4 linked regions of the Homo sapiens genome follow. The protein of the gene in region 1 purifies or fractionates together with the protein of each later gene. This does not show direct contact. Each region holds a gene or a part of one and is shown on either strand. Other genes may lie near its edges.

The links. Proteins that work in one complex are often made in the same cells at the same time.
Region 2: the proteins of MMP26 (region 1) and GALNT11 purify together in Homo sapiens (affinity purification with mass spectrometry; one large-scale study listed by BioGRID and IntAct). This does not show direct contact.
Region 3: the proteins of MMP26 (region 1) and NXPH4 purify together in Homo sapiens (affinity purification with mass spectrometry; one large-scale study listed by BioGRID and IntAct). This does not show direct contact.
Region 4: the proteins of MMP26 (region 1) and BCAS3 purify together in Homo sapiens (affinity purification with mass spectrometry; one large-scale study listed by BioGRID and IntAct). This does not show direct contact.

What each region holds. Positions count from the first base shown.
Region 1 is NC_000011.10:4,702,905-4,707,954, reverse strand, and holds the start of MMP26 (matrix metalloproteinase-26 isoform 1 preproprotein), read right to left. Parts: upstream 3,172-5,050; 5' UTR 2,910-3,171; intron 1-2,909. UniProt on the Homo sapiens protein: May hydrolyze collagen type IV, fibronectin, fibrinogen, beta-casein, type I gelatin and alpha-1 proteinase inhibitor. Is also able to activate progelatinase B.
Region 2 is NC_000007.14:152,101,665-152,106,105, reverse strand, and holds part of GALNT11 (polypeptide N-acetylgalactosaminyltransferase 11), read right to left. Parts: intron 2,995-4,441; coding exon 2,828-2,994; coding exon of another isoform or gene 2,805-2,827; exon of another isoform or gene 1,214-2,804; intron 862-1,213; coding exon 736-861; coding exon of another isoform or gene 719-735; exon of another isoform or gene 1-718. UniProt on the Homo sapiens protein: Polypeptide N-acetylgalactosaminyltransferase that catalyzes the initiation of protein O-linked glycosylation and is involved in left/right asymmetry by mediating O-glycosylation of NOTCH1.
Region 3 is NC_000012.12:57,215,041-57,220,025, reverse strand, and holds the start of NXPH4 (neurexophilin-4 precursor), read right to left. Parts: upstream 3,233-4,985; 5' UTR 3,057-3,232; coding exon 3,000-3,056; intron 1-2,999. UniProt on the Homo sapiens protein: May be signaling molecules that resemble neuropeptides and that act by binding to alpha-neurexins and possibly other receptors.
Region 4 is NC_000017.11:61,072,342-61,076,782, reverse strand, and holds part of BCAS3 (BCAS3 microtubule associated cell migration factor), read right to left. Parts: intron 1,864-4,441; coding exon 1,763-1,863; intron 1-1,762. UniProt on the Homo sapiens protein: Plays a role in angiogenesis. Participates in the regulation of cell polarity and directional endothelial cell migration by mediating both the activation and recruitment of CDC42 and the reorganization of the actin cytoskeleton at the cell leading edge.

The DNA.
Region 1 (5,050 bases):
GACCAGAAGAAGCGTCCTCTAATGAAACTGAGGAGACATGGCCACTAAGGCAAAAATGACTCCCAGGAAAATATAAGGACCATTTTTTCTCAGACCTACGATCTCAGAGCCAGAAAAAATGGCTAGCACAACAGCATCTAAAAGTATCTATTAAATGAATGAATGAACTGCTTCTGAAAATAGTGATAAACCCCAGTGCTTAATATTTCCACATATGTGTGATTCCCGATATGTGGCCCCCTCAAATTATAAGTTAAATTCATGCAATCATAAAAACATATTTCAACATAGGAGGAAAACAAGCAGTTTTCTCAATAATCTGATATTTATCTTTGAGACAAGGACTTTGCTCAGATTTGGACCTAGTGATAAAAACATTTATTTTCCCAGTTGAAGTGGAGAGCAAGTAATGACCTCAAGGTCATACACTCTTTATTTTAAAAATGAGGAAGCAGCCTCTCAATTTAATGTTCTTTTTATTATAGTAAATAAACCCAATTTGCAAACCAAATACCTGATTAGGGGTTAATATTCAAAATATATAAAGAACTCCTACAACTCAGTAGCAAAAACACAAATAACTCAATTTAAAAAGGGACAAAGGACTTGAATAGAGATTTCTCCAAACAAAACATACAAATGGCCAACAAATATAAAAAGATGCTCAACATTACTAATCACATAAATGTGAATCAAAATCATCAAAATCACAGTGAGATATAACCTCATAGCTATGAAAATACTTATTATAAAAAACAATAGCAAGTGTTGACAAGAATGAGAAGAAATTGGACCTATTGTACACAGTTGGAGAGAATGTAAAATCATGCAACCACTGTGAAAAACAGCACATCCACTCTGAGTATATATCCAAAGGAAAGGAAATCAGTTAGTCAAAGAGGTATCTGCACTTCCATATTCATTGCAGAATTAGTCACAATAGCCAACATATGGAAACAACCTAAATGTCCATCAACAAATGAATGCATAAAGAAAGCACAAGACATACATGTAATAGAATACTATTCAACCTTAAAAGCAGTAATATTCTGACACATGCTACAACATGGATGAACCTGAAATGAAATACTTCATGATTCCACTTATATGTGAAGTATCTCTTAGCCAAACTCATAGAAACAGAAACTAGAATGGTGATTGCAACAGACTAGGGAGAGGGAAAAATGGGGGAGATGCTGTTAAACAGGTATAAAGTTTCAGTTACTAAAGAAGAATTAGTTCCAGAGATCTGATATACAACATTTTACTTATAGTTAACAATACTGTATTGTGCTATTAAAAGTTAGAGTAAATCTCATGTTAAGTGTTCTTTTCTTTCTTTCTTTCTTTCTGTCTTTTTTTTTTTTTTTTTTTTTTGAGATAGGGTCTTGCTCTGTTGCCCAGGCTGGAGTGCAGTGGCGCAATCACTGCTCACTGTAGCCTCAAACTTCCAGGCTCCAGTGATCCTCCTGCCTCAGCTCGCCAAGTAAAGAACCTGTAAAGTAGCTGAGACTACAGGCACACACCATCATGCCTGGATAATTTTTTTTTATTTTTTGTAGAGATGGGGTTTCACCATGTTGCCCAGGCTGGTCTTGAACTATTGAACTCAAGGAATACACCTGCCTTGGCCTCCAAAGTGCTGGGATTACAAGTGTGATTTTATCACAATAAAAATAAATAGAATAGCTATATTGTAAACAGCAAAAATAAAAATAAAACATAAAAGAAAAACCCAACAGATTAAGTACTTGGCTATATTTCTCTCTAATAAAATTAGTGGTAATGTATTTAATGCCTTCTACGTGCCAAACAATTTACTTCACTGAATCTGAGTCCCCCTTTCCACTGTACATAGCTCATAGAATCTTTCTTCAACTCCTGCAATCAAAGGGAAACGTAATAGGATTCTTGTAACAGAGGGAACTCTATTAGCAAACATGGGTCCAAGAACAGCTCCCCCCACCACCACCACCACCACCCGCCCCCACCATCCCTGCTCCTGGAGCTGGAGTGCAATGGCACAATCACCTACTCCTCCCAGGTTCAAGCAATTCCCTTGCCTCAGCCTCCCGAGTAGCTAGGACTACAGGTACATGCCACCACACCCAGCTAATTTTTTGTATTTTAGTAGAGATGGGGTTTCACCATGTTGGCCAGGATGGTCTCGATCTCCTGACCTCGTGATCTGCCCACTTCAGCCTCCCAAAGTGCTGGGATTACAGGCGTGAGCCACTGCTCCCGGCCAATAATAGCTTTTTAAAAAAAATTCTGTGATTCTTAAACCAGTCTTGAGTTGTCCTGCGCTAAAACTAATGAGCAAATATTAAACTCTTCTTAAACAGTTCTCTTTAAGTGTCTCTTTCTCCCCCACTGAGAATTCTTCCATGACAGAGCCTATAACTTAAACATCCCTATTACCAGACTACCAGGAACATCTAAATAGACAGCCCTCACAACAAAGCTTCACATTCATTACTATCACAACACCATTATTGGGTATTAATAACTCCCCTTTATGGGTGAGAAAGCAGGGTAAGATTAGATAATCGAGTCTCAGAGGAAACATACGACGTTCTCAAATTCACCCAACAAGCCAATGGCAGATTCAGGAATTGAGCTCTGTTCTTACTCCAAACGCCATGCTCTCGCAAACTCCTTATTTAAATTTTTTTTTCTTTTTTTACTGTGGCATGAACAAACACATGCTGATGACTGTAGTCTATATTTGGAATAACTATTTTGAACGCTACAACGATATTTTTGAGTTGACATAACGTATGAAAATACACTACTGAGTTCATGCTCACATTTACTCTGAATACTTCCGCGTTTGTTTCATATACTATCTGAAGGTTATACAGTACCTAATTTATTTATAACTGTCTTCAATGCACTACAACACTGACCTTGTGCACAGAATTCTTGGGTCTGGAAGGTGAGGTTATTTGATCCTGCCCCCTGCTATTTGAAGGATCATCCCACACAGCAGAGAATCTATTAATGCAAAGCAAGTGAGAGAGAGTTATCTCAACCTCACTAACTTACTTGCAGAAAGGTTCTGTACTACTATAGCTGCGGAATCAGCCCCTGATCAGCCCTGCCCCTGGACAAAGAGGTCCTCTTCTGCCAGGAGAAAACATAGGGAAAAAATTCAGGAATAGGAGAACTACCAGATTTGAGAAAAACAGCCTTTATAAGGAGCCTAGAAGTCACCTGGTGAGAGTCATTTACCCAGCAGAAAAGCAAATTCCTAGGGGAGAACTCCCTACAGCTGTGTCCTGTTAACCCTTTGTGCTCCAAATAACAAATTGTAAAAGGCAACATATTTTCAGTCTATCTTCACTCTTTCTTCCCCAAAAGATAATTCTATAGATGAACTGCAATTTCAATTCTCATTCAAGAGCAATTTGAGCCCTAAACAGCTGTAGGACAACTTTGCATAGAGCCAGAGTAAGGAAGAAGTGTTGTTGTTAACGGATCATTAACAGCTGAGTTTGCTCAGCTGCCATTTGCCGGTTTCACAGCAATCACGAGACACGGAACCCAAATAGGAAAGGGGTTGCTGAGTTACTACATTCACTGAAGGTAGTGCAGTGGTTTTCTGATTGAGGGCCCAGGCCCTCCCCTGAATTTCCTGGGAGCTGTTGCTAACCTGTGCATAGTCACAGAAAATGACAACTTAAGAGGAAGTGACTAAAGGAAGACTACAAAACTTTATGAGTCCCTTGTGTGTCCCTTGCTAGCTTACAGAGATACTAGTCTGCTCTGTCCTAAAACTGCTACCAGCATGTTTACCACTGTGGTGGAGAATTAACCATGTTTGACAGACAGCTTCTATTTAAGCTGTGGACACTCATAAATGGCTTTCAGCTTTGTCATTAATACAGCGTTTCACAATTAATGGTGAGCTTGGAAGCTTGGTAAATTTCAAGGACAACTATTTAAACATGTTTCTTGGCATAAGAGGCTGTATCAAGAGGCCATTACCTTACAAAGTCCTGCTGTATGGAAGAAGGGGACGAGTTAACTATTCCCGTTAGAGTTGCTACAGAGCAGAAAATTTAATTATCCTGTTTAATTTTTTTCTTCTTCTCATGTCACAAGATTCTAGATCCCTAGGAAAATCTGGAAAGATGCATTTTTTCCCAGAAGTTCATAAAGAACCTGAGAAAATATGCTCTCTTTTTAGGTATTTTCTGGACTAATAGAAGCATAATCTTCCCCCATAAATACCTCAATGGGTTAGGGGGGAAATCTTAACAGTCCCAGATAAATGTGCCACATAATGTATGAGACTCCGTGGGAAAAAATGCACAATTTAAATAGAAGCTTTCAAGATACAGAAGCAAAAACAGACGTCCAGGCTGTTACAGGGAAATAAATGTGAAAATCTTACTATCCATGCTAGGAATTCCAGTCTGAGGGGCACTGGTTCATGCTCACAGACACAAGTGCAGGCTGATCTTCTACACACAGCTGCAGAAAATGGAACACAGAAGAGCTTCGGACTCTTTTTTAGTGCACACTCCAGACATTTAAACCATTCACCAGCCAAGGCTTAACAATCAGTGGATACAAGAAGGGCATAATGATCAATGCTCATTTTGACTGGTTGTCTATTCTAATTGTACTGTCCCAGGACTTAAGTATGTTACACACTTGCCTACATCTACCTGTCCATTAAGAGTCAACATAGCATTGGTTCAACTGAAAGTATTTGGAACCAGACAACCTTGGTCCAACCAGACAACCAGACAACCTTGGTCCAAAGCTCAGCTCTGTCACCAATCGTGTGACCTTAGACTACATCACCTCTGTTTTTTGCTTTTAATGTGGAGAAAATCGTTATACTGCTTTATAAGTCTATGTTGTAAAATAAGATAACCCAGTATTGATCCATAAAAAGGTCTTAGCACATTTGCACTCACTCAAAATGTGTTATTAATCATTGTAATAATTTATTTTTATTATTTATCATGATTACTATTGTTCTCATTAATATAGCAATTTTATTAAATTATCATTTAGTGCCTAGTATGTGTCAGAT
Region 2 (4,441 bases), on another chromosome or scaffold:
TTTAATTACAGTCATAAATGAAACTCAGGGAGACCAATTACACATAGGTAACCATAAAACGAAATACAACAGAATCAATATAACGTAACTGAAGACTAACCAGATATATTTTCTGCAGAAGACTGAATTTGAGATCGGTTATTTCTTTTTAAAGGGGGAGAGCAGTGTATGATGGAAATATACTAGTAACAACGGAGACTTGCTCCTTGATGGAATCAGAAGGATTAAGAGGGAATTTTAAAGAAAATGCCATTTATAGTTTTGTAAGTCAATCTTACGTCCATTAACCAATTAAAGTCATGATGTGTGGCTCCAGAGGGATGCACTCCGCACTAAGAGTTAAAAGCATAGTTCCAATCGACAGTTTGGGTTCATACATTTTAAATTTTGTATTTAAAAACATAAAAATTCAGTTACATTTTGGTCTGGGCTTTTCTGCTTATATAAGTGAATAAGATATAAAATATATTTGAGGGGCAGTAAGTATCAAAGAAGGGTTGCTATGAAAATAGACACTGAGGATTTGAGAGTTCAGCCCCCTGCACTATGTGCTTTGGGATGGCAGGCTTGGCGTTATGAACAGGTCTTTCCCAAACAGAACAAGCCTCATCTCTCCTGCTGGCAATGTCCGTTTGAAACACTACTCTTCATAGACTTTGCAGAATCAGGACAGGCGCTGAGGCTCGAGCCCTTGTCATCCAACACCTGTAGAGCAAAGCTAACGAGAAGTGATACCTGTCGCGTGGGCCGCGCCAATCATTCTCCCTCGAATCAACCCCTCACGCTTTGTATTTCTTATGACTTTAATTTTTCCAGGGAGGTATTTTTGGACATATTCATCTAGTTCTCCTTTCAAATCATCTGAAAATAAAGTCCCACAATTATTCAAACTGTATGAGACATATATAAAGACACTTTACAGCTATTCTAAAGTTGTATCTAGTACTTGCTAAAATTTACAACAAACTATCAAGCAAATACTACAGAATATTTTACTTTAAAAGAGTATTGTAGCTTATCCTGTAGGAAGAAAAAGAAATGAAGGGTAAGAGCTGGAATACTAGCAAAGAGGAATACTTACTTTAGTTACAGACTTATTTGTATCTCCATAGCATCGAGCACAATGCTTTGCACAAAGAATGTTTGAAATGAGTATTTTGAGTGCATAAATGTTCAGCTGACCATATATAAATCACATTGATAACAAAGAAAATGAGATATAAATGCCTTTTATTACAAAGGAATTTATTAAGTCTTAGTCCATTTCAAAATAGTTAAGAAACAACTTCTATTGCCCCTACCAAGAATAACAAGAACAGCATTGAATATGTCCTTTTATTAATTTAGCATCTTTCTTCCAAGGTTGCTAAATATTTTTTAAGGAATTCTATGTCATTCACCTGTATATTTCAGAATAACTTGAAAGATCGTGTAAGATAATAAGCAGTAATTCTTTCCATAGTTAATATACAAACCACCTCAAATTATGAATTTTTCCTTTTAGGTAAAATAGCCACAAAGTGAAAACCAAAATACAAGTTGACTTAAAAAAAAACAAAAACCAACCATAAATTCTAGAAATCAGTATGTAACCAATCTTCTACGTGGTCCAGACTCAGATTTATTTATTAGGTTTTTTGTTTGTTTGTTTTTGGCCAAGGTTTGAGAATTTTGCTCCCATGACTCTCTCCATTTCTTTACCTTCTATATTTAAGTATACTGGTATACCAACTCTGATGTTGATACAAGTGGTACTTAATAAACGCTCGAGTGCATGAAAAAGTCACTGGCATACACCTGTACCACTGTGTTCCTGCAGCCTGCTGTCATGAAAAGAGCAGAAGGCTTGGAGCTATGCAGACCAGAGGTCTCATTTCCACTCTACTACTTAACAGCTATGGGGTCTGAGCAAATTACTTTTTATATTTCTCCCTCTATAAAATGGGCTTCCAGCCTTTCTTGCAAGGTCACTGAGAGCTGAATGAGCAGTGTAATAAAAAGCCTTCTATCCTGTTTGGGTACACAAAGCCATTCTTAGCAAGAGTCTATGTTGAATTAAGAAAGGCGTACAGAATATAGAATATGTAGTGAATCATAAAATACTGGCATTCAGAGATCATTGAGGAGCTATCAGAATGCAATCCACTTTTATCTGGGGACGATCAGTGTAAGAGACTTAATAGAGAAGCATAAGCCAAGGCATCATGCCAAATGAAAAAAGCCCATCTCAAAAGGTCACATACCGTGTGATTCCATTTATATGACATTCTTGAAATAACAAAATCAGAGATGGAAACAAAATCATAGAGTCGTGGTTTCAGGGACTGGGGAAGAGTAGAGGAAAGCAGGAGGTGTGACTAGAAAGAGGCAGCACAAGGGCCCTCCGGGTGAGGAAACAGTTCTGTATCATTGCAGTGAGGGTTGTGGGAGTCCACCTGTGTGACAGAATGACCCTGGACCACACACACTGTACCAATGTGGATTCCTGGTTCTGACAGGGGAATTTTATGATGGAGCAACTGGATAAAGGTACATAGGCCGTCTTTGTAACTTCCTGTGAACCTACAGTTATTTCAAATAAAAAGAGGTGTGTTTTTTAAAGTAAGCCACGGAAAAAATTTCACGGCCCAAATTTGGGTAGCATAGTTTATAAGCAGGTTACAAAGATAATGGATTTCTTCAGACTTATTTGTGGTCAGCCCAGCTGTGACTGCACGTGTAGGATCCCCACCTACCACGTACTTGAAAGTTCAGCTGTGTTAGTGTTTGTCAGTGCTGTAGTGACTGACAGCCTGGATCCAATGTTACCAGGTGCAGCATTCCTTACCAAAGTCACTATCATCATCCACAAGGATGATCTCATGAAGCAGGTGTGCTGGCGTGCGGTCTATGACACTGTGCACTGTCCGAAGCAAGGCAGAAAACGCTTCATTATAGAAACAGATAACAACACTAGCAGCTGGCAGGTCAGGTGGGTAGAACTTTTCTTTACATCTGTAAAGATAAAGATGAGGAAATTCTGACATTTTAAAAGGCTCGAATGGTTTAGATTATTATTCACCTACAGATTTACTGTCCCCTTGTTCACCCTCTTCCCCCACCCCCTGCCTTTTTTTTTTTTTTTGAGACGGAGTCTCGCTCTTGTTGCCCAGGCTGGAGTGCAGTGGCGCTATCTCGGCTCATCGTGACCTCCGCCTCCCAGGTTCAAGCGATTCTCCTGCCTCAGCCTCCCGAGGAGCTGGGATTACAGGCATGCGACACCACATCCGGCTAATTCTGCATTTTTAGTAGAGACAGGGTTTCTCCATGTTGGTCAAGCTGGTCTCGAACTCCTGACCTCAGGTGATCTGCCCACCCCAGCCTCCCAAAGTGCTGGGACTACAGGCGTGAACCACCACGTCCAGCCTGTTCAGCCTCTTTCTAACATTATGGTAACAACAATTTTTTTTAAAAGCATTTACAAAAACAATACGGTTTCTTCTTCAAGAGTTTTACATTTTGCTAATAATGTCTCCCTCCTATACCTGCTATCTTGTTTACTTTTGGATAAATTTTTTCTTTTTTTGAGACGGTGTCTTGCTCTGTCACTAGGCTGGAGTGCTGTGGCGCGATCTCGGCTCACTGCAACCTCCGACTCCCTGGTTCAAGCGATTCTCCTGCCTCAACCTCCTGAGTAGCTGGGATTACAGGCCTGCGCCACCACGCCCAGGTAATTTTTGTATTTTTAGTAGAGACAGAGTTTCACCACATTGGCCAGGATGGTCTCGATCTCCTGACCTCGTGATCCACCCACCGCGCCCTCCCAAAGTGCTGGGATTACAGGTGTGAGCCACCATGTCCAGCCGAATAAAGACTTTTTAAACTTCAGGGTTTTTTTTCTTTTTTGGAAGAGAGGGTACATAAAAATGTGAGTTCTTTTTACCAAAATCACTGCAAGTGTTTCATGCAGCACTCATGAGCTGATGTCCAGCTTCTCCTCAATGAGGTTTCAAAAGGAAACAAATATAAGACTTTATATTTGAAATTTTATTTTTTTGCCCAATAATAAAAAAGATTTGAATAAATTATGATATACCAAGATAACAGAAGAGCTTCCATGTATCAAATCATTCCAAGCAACTATTTGGGAAAAAAAGGGTTAGGAGCTTTAAGCAACATCAAAAAGCCATGAACTGGCCAGGCGCAGTGGCTCACGCCTGTAATCCCTGCACTTTGGGAGGCCAAGGTGGGCAGATCACGAGGTCAGGAGTTTGAGACCAGCCTGGCCAACATGGTGAAACCCTATCTCTACTAAAACTATAAAAATTAACCAGGCGTGGTGGTGCACGCCTGTAGTCCTAGCTACTCAGGAGGCCGAGGCAGGAGAATCACTTGAACTTGGGAGGTGGAGGTTATAGTGAGCCGACATCATGCCACCACACTCCAGCCTGGGCAACAGAGA
Region 3 (4,985 bases), on another chromosome or scaffold:
TCCTTGCCAATTACTCCATCTCTGACCCCTGTGAGGTCCCCCCACTTACCTGTTTTCTTTAGACGTTTGTGTTGTCTCTCTCCAATTACCTCGTCCCTGACCCCTCTTTGCCTTGCTTCTGTCCTTATTACCTCACCTCTTCGCCAGTCACCCCGCTCCTGGGTCTCCAGCTCCTCTACCCATCCCAACCCTGACACTCTAAATTCTCCTTTCTGACGCATGCCCCTCCTATTAGGAATGTGAGGCTTCCACTGCAGGCTCTGGCCCAAGGGAGCTGTCACAGCAGGCCCTCCCCTGTCCCCCTGGCCCAGCTGCGGCCCCTGATTACCCCCAAATCCCCGGCAGCAGCTCTGGGCCCTAGCCCAGGCTGTGCGTGCCTAAGTGGCCCAGGCAGAGATTAGCTGGGGGGCTAGAGGAGGGTGTGGAGGCAGGAGGGGGTAGCTGGCTGAGGGGCTTCGGCCAGCCAGCTCTAAGAGAATCAGACCTAATCCTTTCCTGAGGCGGGATAGAGCTGGCAGGTCCCACAGGGCCCCGCCCCTGCCCTCCCCCAGCTAATTAGTAATTAGTGATTAGTGATTAGTGACTATTGATCGCCTGCTGCTTCTCCCAGTAGGCAGCTGCTTTGGCAAGGGGTCGGGGAGACAGAGAGAGAGGGAAAGGAGTCAGAGACTGTATGAGAAAGATCCTCAAGAATCCCTGGCTGAGAGGCCAGAACCCCAGAGGCAGTGGAAGCCAGGAGTCCCAGGCTCTGAGAAATGGGAAGCCTGGAGTGAGGAGGAAGGGAGAGAAACCTGGAGGAGGGTGAGCAAGCAGGACGGGAGAGGCAGAGGTGTCAGCCGTTCATGGTTAGGGTTGCCAAAAAGTTGCCCTGTAAACTGTCCCCTAGCCACCTCTTACCCAGGATCAGCCTCACCTTTTGCCCACTCCCAGTGCTGGCACCAAGACACCCTTGAGCACCCACACACATAAGCCACACTCAGATACATAAACACATCCTGAGGCTCACAATCTCATAGCACACTCAAATGCACTCACAATCACAAGCACACAGAAACACACTCACAAACCCCAGAGACTCATACAGACAACACATGGGCCCCAGCACACAGATGCACCAGAAACCCCGGGGTATACATGTGCATACGCCACACTCACAAGTGCACAGAAGCACACACAGGTATTTGGACACACAAACACTCATATACCCACACCTCCCCGTGCAGTTATACATATTCACACACCCGCAGTGTGTACACATGTAAACACATTCTCACATGCACATAAGCTGGGCTAACCAGCAGATCCACTCTCCCTGTTGACTCCAACACGGAGGCCCCACAGCTGCAGCTCACACACACACACTCAGATAGATCCCATTGCTCATATCCTCACGCTCACTCTCACTCAAGTCTCCACCAGATGTTTCATTCCCCCTCAGGGGGCAAAGGAAATTAAACCAGATCTGTCCACAGGGGAGTTTATTTGCCTGGGAGAGTGGAGATGAGGTGGGAGGAAGTGGAAAGGAGGGGCAAGAGAATGCCATACCTACCACCTCTTGACCCCAGGCCTTCACACATGGGTGGGTGGGTGGTAGGGCACAGACCCCCCCCACTCCTCCAGTTCACTAAGGACAGAGTTGGGCAGCAAGTCCCTAAGAAGCTCCTGCTAGTGGAAGCAGTTTTCATGGAGGGGCTCCTCTGCCTACCGTGCAGCCCCTCAAGGTCACCAGGTGGGGCTGGGAGGGCCAGGGAGCTCTAATGCTAGCTTCACTGGGGCAGCCCCTGCCCTGCTGGGGTTTGCCAAATGTGATTTGGCTGAGCAGGCAGAGGTCCAAGTGTTGGGGGAAGAAATACACCCCTTCTAGACTCTACAGGGGCTGAGGGTACAGAGAATGAGGGTTTGGGGAATGACCTGCCTGCCCCCAAACTAGGTAGGTCACAGTTGGGGGTCAGAAAACAGGGAAGCCATAGGCAGGGGAGGCTGGTAGAAGGAAAATGGGGGACTGGGGCCTGGGCCCCCATTGCGGGCACACACCAGGGGCATAGGCAGATGGCTGCACTGTGAGGCAGGCACTGACACTCACTCATGCAAAGCCAACACCACACACCACACCAGTATACACATGTACCCTCGGCCCCAGTACTGGACCAAGCCTGGCTTCCCTGGACACATGCACACAGGTGCACACGGTGACCCACGCCCTCCACCCAGCACATATGAGCACAGCATGTTCGCAGGTTGAAGCCTCCAAGTCAGGAAGGAGGCAGATCAAGTCTGAGCTCCCTTAGCCTCTGGCTCTTCGCCCGAGAGCCTCAGGGAAAGAGGCCTTGGAGTGGGGTTGGAGGCAGGGAGGGCATGGGAGGAGAGACTCCCCTTCCAGACAGCCTCCCCCTTCAGTGGGGCACGAGAGGGGGGTGTGTCTGTGAGGTCGTGCAGGGGAGATGGTGTCTCCGTGGGAAATGTGATGGGAGGCTGGCTGTAGCCAAGTTCAGCCGTGTCTGCCTGAGTCCGTGTGTGCGTGTGTGCTCGGGCCATGGATGCTCCCGACACAGAGCCCACCTGGCATGGTGACAAGTGCAGAGAAGAGAAATGGGAAGGCGGGGGTGGAGGGGTGGAAGGACAGACAGACAGTGAGGCAGGCGAGCGAGACTGGCGCGGAAAGACGGCAAGGCTGACACCCTGCTGGCTTGTCTGTCTGTCTCGCACTCCCGCTCTGTCTGGCGCACTCGCGGGTCGGGCTTCGTCCCCTCCCCCGCCGCGCCTGAAGTCGGCTGCAAGGGGGACCTCCGCCCGGCACCCTCTCCAAGCCTCAGCCAACTTGCGCTAGGAGAGTGCCCGTCCTGAATCGGGCAGTCTGTCTGTCCGCTTCCCCCGCGCCGCGCAAAGTTGGGACGCTCGGAGCTGGGGGCGGGGCGGGCGCACGGAGCCCCTCGCACACTGGGACCTTCGCGTCCCGGAACCCCGCGCCCGCGCTAGCGCCCCAGCCCTGCCACTCTTACCTTCCTAAGGAGCCACGGGCCAAAGAGCAAGAGGAACCATTCCGGGAGCAGCCGCATCTTCTCTGGCGGCTGAGCGGGGCAGGCTGGGCGGGTCTCGGGCAGGCGGGAGCCAGGCCTAGGGACGCGGGGCTCCGGGCGGGCGGCGGGGCGGCTGCGGGAGCGGCGGGAGCGGCGGGAGCGGCGGGAGCGGCGGCGCGGCCCGCGGACTGGGCGCGAGGCGCGGAGCCGGCGCTGGGGGCGGGGCGCGGGCGGGGGAGAAAGTTGGGTCTGACTCCGCGGGCGGGGGGCGGGGCTCCGCGGCGCTCCAATCCCGGCCGCGCCCCGCGCGCCCCCTCCCGCCCAGCTGGGGGCACCGAAGGTGACTTTCACACCGGCACGCCCCGGACACGCCCCTGGCCCAGGTGCGAAGCGGAGGGGGTCGAGGGGCTCAGGCACTGGTCCCCCGAGAGGCCGCGTCTGTGCGCCCAGGAGGAACGGGGCAGGGCGTGGGGCTCTGGGCTCCGGGCCCGTGCACCTGGAGTGGGGGCGCCGCGGAGCCCAGCCGGACGACGCTCTCCAAGCCCCGGGCCTCTGCCCTGTTCAGGGCCAAGGTGTGTCGGGGCAGGCGCAGGGCAGGGGCCGAGGTGGGGACGGGCGGGGCCTCGGGCGGCTGCCGCCGCGCGATGCTGACGGGGATGGATGGGCGCCCCGCGGCTCATTCGGCCCGGAGATGAGAATCATTGATCACGGACGGAAACCCCATCACGTCTGTCAATAGGGCTGACAAACGGCGCCCTCCGCCCCGTCCCCGCCTCACCGCACCTCTGCGGTCTCAGGACCCCTCGGCTAGACCGGCTGTTCACCTTTGCCCCTGGCCCCCACCACTGACCCCCACGAGGCCCAGTGCGCCTCTGCATGGGGGCTGGGCAGGAAATCCCTCTCAGCGCCGCCTGCCTGGCCTCTTGGTGCAGTCTCTGTTCCTCCCCTCCCGCCGTCCCATCTTTCACCACCAGCTCTTCTAGATCCTTGTCCCCATTCCCTATCTCTGTCCTTGTCTCTGTCCCCAGCCCCAGCTCTCTGCCCCCATCCTCTTCTCTGTTTCTTCCTCGGTTCCCTCCTCCCCACTGCCTCTCTCTCTCCTGCCCGGGTGGTTTCAGCTGTCAGCTGTTGCTATGCACTGAGGCTGTGGCTGAGGTTGTGGTATGACCAACACCTAGACAGAGATAGGGACAAGCAAAGAGACTGAGAGACAGACACATCCCTTGAGAGCCCACCCCAGGGATGCACGCAGATGCCTTCACGGGGACAGGGCACACAGAGCGAAATACAGAGACAGGCGCACACCTAGCGGCACCCCAACACACAGAGGAGCACAGCAACAGAGGTGAGCACACCTGCACCCAGACGAGCACACCCAGACAGTTGCTCAGTGCGCTCACCCTCTCTTTGTCTTGGCAGAGAGCAAACACCCACAGAGGTGGACACACACACTGAGACATACACAGGTGTATGCTGTCACTGGCAGCCCAGAAGACAAGTGGGGGCACATACAAAGAAATGGACAGATAGATATGGGACGTGACAGCCACACACACGAGTCAGGAAAAGGACCGGTGCTGAGAGGACGAGGCAGATTCAGAGACACCCAGGGAGACAGGCAGAAGCCAGGAGGCAGGAACCTGGGTGCCGGGGTGGGGGTGGAGAGGAGAGAGGCAGGAAGGGGCAGAAATGTTCAGGCTCAAGGCCAAAAGGCCTTGAGCCAGAACCCTGAGCCCACGTTCCAGGCACGGGGGCTGCTTCAGTAGTAGGTGGGAACAGTGGGCACACCTAGGCGTAGGCTGTCCAGGACAGAAGCCCATTACCAGGGTCCTGGTCTTCTGGGGGCCGAACCCACTGCATCTCTCCTCCTTTAGCTACAGTCTCAGGCCACCTGTTCTCTCTCCAGTTACACACACACATGTGTGCGCGCTCGCACAAACACAAGTGCAAACACACACATGCACACTA
Region 4 (4,441 bases), on another chromosome or scaffold:
GATAAAGCATTCTGTGTACTTTAAGCTCAAAACCATCAGTGTCACAGAGCCCAGAGGTAAACAGATGCCTGTTCAATTTCACCGAGGCGATGGCCAGATGTTCCTATTCACTCTCCTGTTGTGTGCCGGACAAACACATTGTATATACTTTCACACTGACAGCACACATTACCCCTTTTTCTAATTGAAAAGTTGAAGTGAAGGACAGTGGTTTCTCTGCCAGCATTCCTTGGACAACATTTTGATTTTGGAAAAAACACACATTTGGGGTTTACTTTATCTTCCTAACATTAAGAAAGGATGGACCGCCACATGCCAGGAACTGAAGAATCAACTTCCTTCAAGGAACTTCCTGTGAATATTTTTGGTGTGATGAAATAAATACATGTTACCTAGACACTGCTTGATTTTCCAGTTTACTTTACTTTTGATTTTCCAGACTTTAGTTTTCAGGCTACCCTCCTTGAGAAAGAAATGAAACTACAAATGGCCTCCACATTTTTGAGGCACCTGTCCGATGAAAAGCTGTCAGATTGGTAACCTGAGATAGGTCATTAGCTTCATAAAATGATGTCAGACTTGAGGCAGACATAACAGCATTTGTAATGAAGTCATTTGTAATCCCATCATTTTGACATCTGCCCAAGTATCTTTTATTTCAAAGCCCTTGAGATGAAGACAGCTTCACCTGGCAAGGGGAGGGATGGTCAGTGAAGCTGTTGGAGACTGGGCATGGTGGCTCTTGCCTGTAATCCCAGCACTTTGGGAGGCCAACACAGGAGGATTGCTTGAGCCCAGGAGTTCAAGACCAGCCTAAGCAACATAGGGAGATCCTGTCTCTACATTAAAAAACAAACAAAAAAAACAAATTAGCCAGCATGGTGATGCGTGCCTGCAGTCCCAGCAATGTTGTAGGGCTGGCTTAGAGACCACTAAAAGCAGCATTACATGGGCTTAGGAAAGGAAACCAAGGCACCATCAGAATTTCTGCAGGGTGGAATGTTATATTTCCAATAATGAAAGTATGAACTCAATCTTCGGAAAATGTTGGCTCCACAAAACAAATCCCAAAGATTGCTGAGTGGCTTCACTGTTTCATCAAGGTCAACTTTTATTTTAAACCTGATGAAAATGTGTTCCAAAGAGCCTATTTAAATTCCAAGCTCCTGGCTGGCCACAGTGGCTCACGTCTGTAATCCCAGCACTTTGGGAGGCCAAGAAGGGTGGATTGCTTGAAGTCAGGAGTTCAAGACCAACCTGGCCAACATGGCGAAACCCCTTCTCTACTAAAAATACAAAAATTAGCCAGGCATGGTGGTGCATGCCTGTAATCCCAGCTACTCAAGAAGCTGAGGCATGAGAATCGCTTGAAACCAGGAATTGGAGGTTGCAGTGAGCCAAGGTCGTGTCACTGCACTCCAGCTTGGGTGACAGAGCAAGACTCTGTCTCAAAAATTAATAAATTAATTGATTCCAAGGCCCTAAGGCTTTAAATGGATTGTGTGAAAAATACACAAATTTTATGCCATGTTTATGGAAGCTAACATATATATATATACACACACGTATAATGTATATATAATATGTATATGTACACCTGCAGCAATATTTGTGGAGTAATTTGTAATATGGAAAGACAACTAATTCTTGATAATCCAATAAAGAGTTACCAATTCTCCCCTTTTACCTCTAAGGAAAAGAATAAAAACAGTAAATTTCTGTTTTATTTTACTTTAATACTCTCAATATTTCAGAGTTTTACCTGGGAAAGCCATTCTTCATCTTCCTGTCCACTATGGTCAGAAGCTAAACTGTCGTAAGACCCATGTCGAGTAATGGGCCCAGGACTTCCAGGGGGAACCACTATAGGAGAAAGAAAATAGATTTAAACCACTTCATTCCATGCAGTGGAAAAACAGACGTGGGCACAACCATTTTGGATACTATGGTAATTTATAAGATAAAATATAATACTTTAAAGCAAAAAGGCAATTCAAACAATTATTGAACAAGTAAGAATGAAGTTCTTAGGAATAAGATACTTTAAAAAATATCTACAGAAATTTAGTAATGCCATCTTCTTGCAATAAAAGAAATAAACAACTAACTACATATGCTAATAGCAAAAGTACACTGAAGAGCAGCGACAAATCTATTCATTGGGGGATGACATTAGGATTCTTTAAAAGAGTTTATTTAGTAGCTTCATATAAATGCTAGGCATAAACATGCACACTTAATAGAAAAAATGCTTTCAGTCCTAAAAAAAATTCATTTATCCAGAGAAATACATCATCTTTCTTAGATACCTGAGTAGTTTTCATGATTCTTAAGTGGTATGACATAGTCAAATTACAACAGCCTACTTTTTCATTCAAATAGGAACATTTGCTTAGTAAAACAATACAATGATTCAAAAATATTTACTGAGTTCCTAATATGAACCAGATATTATCTCCTCAAAATCTTAGTCTCTTCTTTGGAAGCTACGACTCACTCACTCTGTCTGTCTCCATGTCTCTAAAGGTATTTTTTTCTTTTTTTCTTCTTTTTTTTTTTAACAGCAGTTTTAGGTTCACAGCAAAGTTGAGCTAAAGATACGGATATTTCCCATATAACCCCCCAACCTCATACATGATTGTATTTAATCTTTTTTTTTTTTTTTTTTTCTTAAGAGATAGGATCTTGCTGTGTTACACATGCTGGATTACAGTGGCATGATCATAGCTCACTGTAACCTCAAACTTCTGGGCTCAAACCATCTTCTCACCTCAGTCTAATAAGTAGCTGAGACTACAGGCATGAGCTACCAATGCCTGCCCAATATTTTCTTCCTTGTAGAGACAGGATCTCACAATGTTGACCAGGCTGGTGTCAAACTCCTGGCCTCAAGTGATCCTCTGGCTTTGGCTCTCAGAGTGCTGGGATTACAGGCATGAACCACCACGCCTGGCCTACCATTTTAATACTCAGAGAAATCAAGCAATGAAGTACTGGGAGGAACAGAGAAAAAGAGGGGAGGTAAGTAGAAAGAAAAGTAAGAAAGTAAGAGATGATCATTAAAGAAGTGTGGAAGAAATAGAAAAGAATGAGAAGCTGAAAACCCTCATAATTTCTACCACCAAAAGACATTTATATATACACATCAACATACAAAAATTTCCTTGAGTTAGATTCCTACATATGAAATCAGAGGATGTAAATATATAAATTTCTTAATATATGTTCCCAGAAAGAGTTATACACTTACCCAAGCAGTGAAAGAGAATGCCAACCTCACTGAGCTCTTGCTAGAACAAGGTAGTATTTTGAAAAACTGTATCTTAGTGAAACAGATACAAATAAAGTAGACAAAGCATAACCTAGGGCAAGATTTTAAAAGACACAGACTCACAAAAAGCTTATCTTAACTTGCTGCAAGAGGAGAAATGCTAATTCAGTGAATTACTCAGCAGAGGCATACACAGTATTAAAGTGTAAGATCTGCAGTAATCAAAACTTTTAGCTGCTAGTTCTTCAAAATCATAGTTCTACAGCCAAGCGGCATGGTGGCATTTGTACAAAACACAAATGATCACAAAAGCATACACCTACATTCTTGTGATGACAAATTATATCAAGAAGAAAAGAATATCACAATAACTATTATTTCAGCATTCTTTTGGAAATAATTGATATACATTGAAAGGCTGATAAGTAATGATATTTTCAAAAGGCTAAGTTATCTTCCCACCACTAAATTCTATATTAATTCTTAATACAGAAGAGAACAAGAGGATCCTTGAAATTCCCACCCCTTAAATACTAGTGAAAAATGTGAATATGGAAAATATGTAGAGGCTGGAAAGCAGATGAGGGCAGAGAAGATTTTAAAGAGGTGAGGTAATATGTTATGCAAATATCTGAAGGAGAGGTGTGACCAAGGGAATGTTAAGTACAAAGATTTTGAGATGTAAACATAAAGGGAATAAGTAACAGCTAGGAGGCCACTGTGGTTGGGTGGGATAAGCCATGTTGTGAGTGGAAGGTTAAGTCAGTAAGGCAAAGGAAGTAGGACCAGCAGATTACTGTGGGCTTTTCCTTTCTTCTTTTTTTTTTTTTTTTTTGGTAATAAAGCTCGAGTAATATGATGGAAAGCAATTAGCAATTTTTAAGTAGAAGTGAGTAACCATGCCTTACGTAACTAGCTAGTACCTAATGTGAATTTCTCCAAAAGTTTATGTTGTGTTTTATATATGCTGAGCCTAGACTAGTACGTGTCACAGAACAAGTACTCAATAAGTATTTACTGGGTGGTTGGAGTTTTGGATTCTGTACTAAGTAAGTAACGGCACTAGAATGGCTGGACACTTATTTATCCATCATCAAAATAGGGATAATATATTATAATGTCTGGGATTAGCTTCAAAATAACCCAGTGCAGGGATGAAGGTGGGAGGTA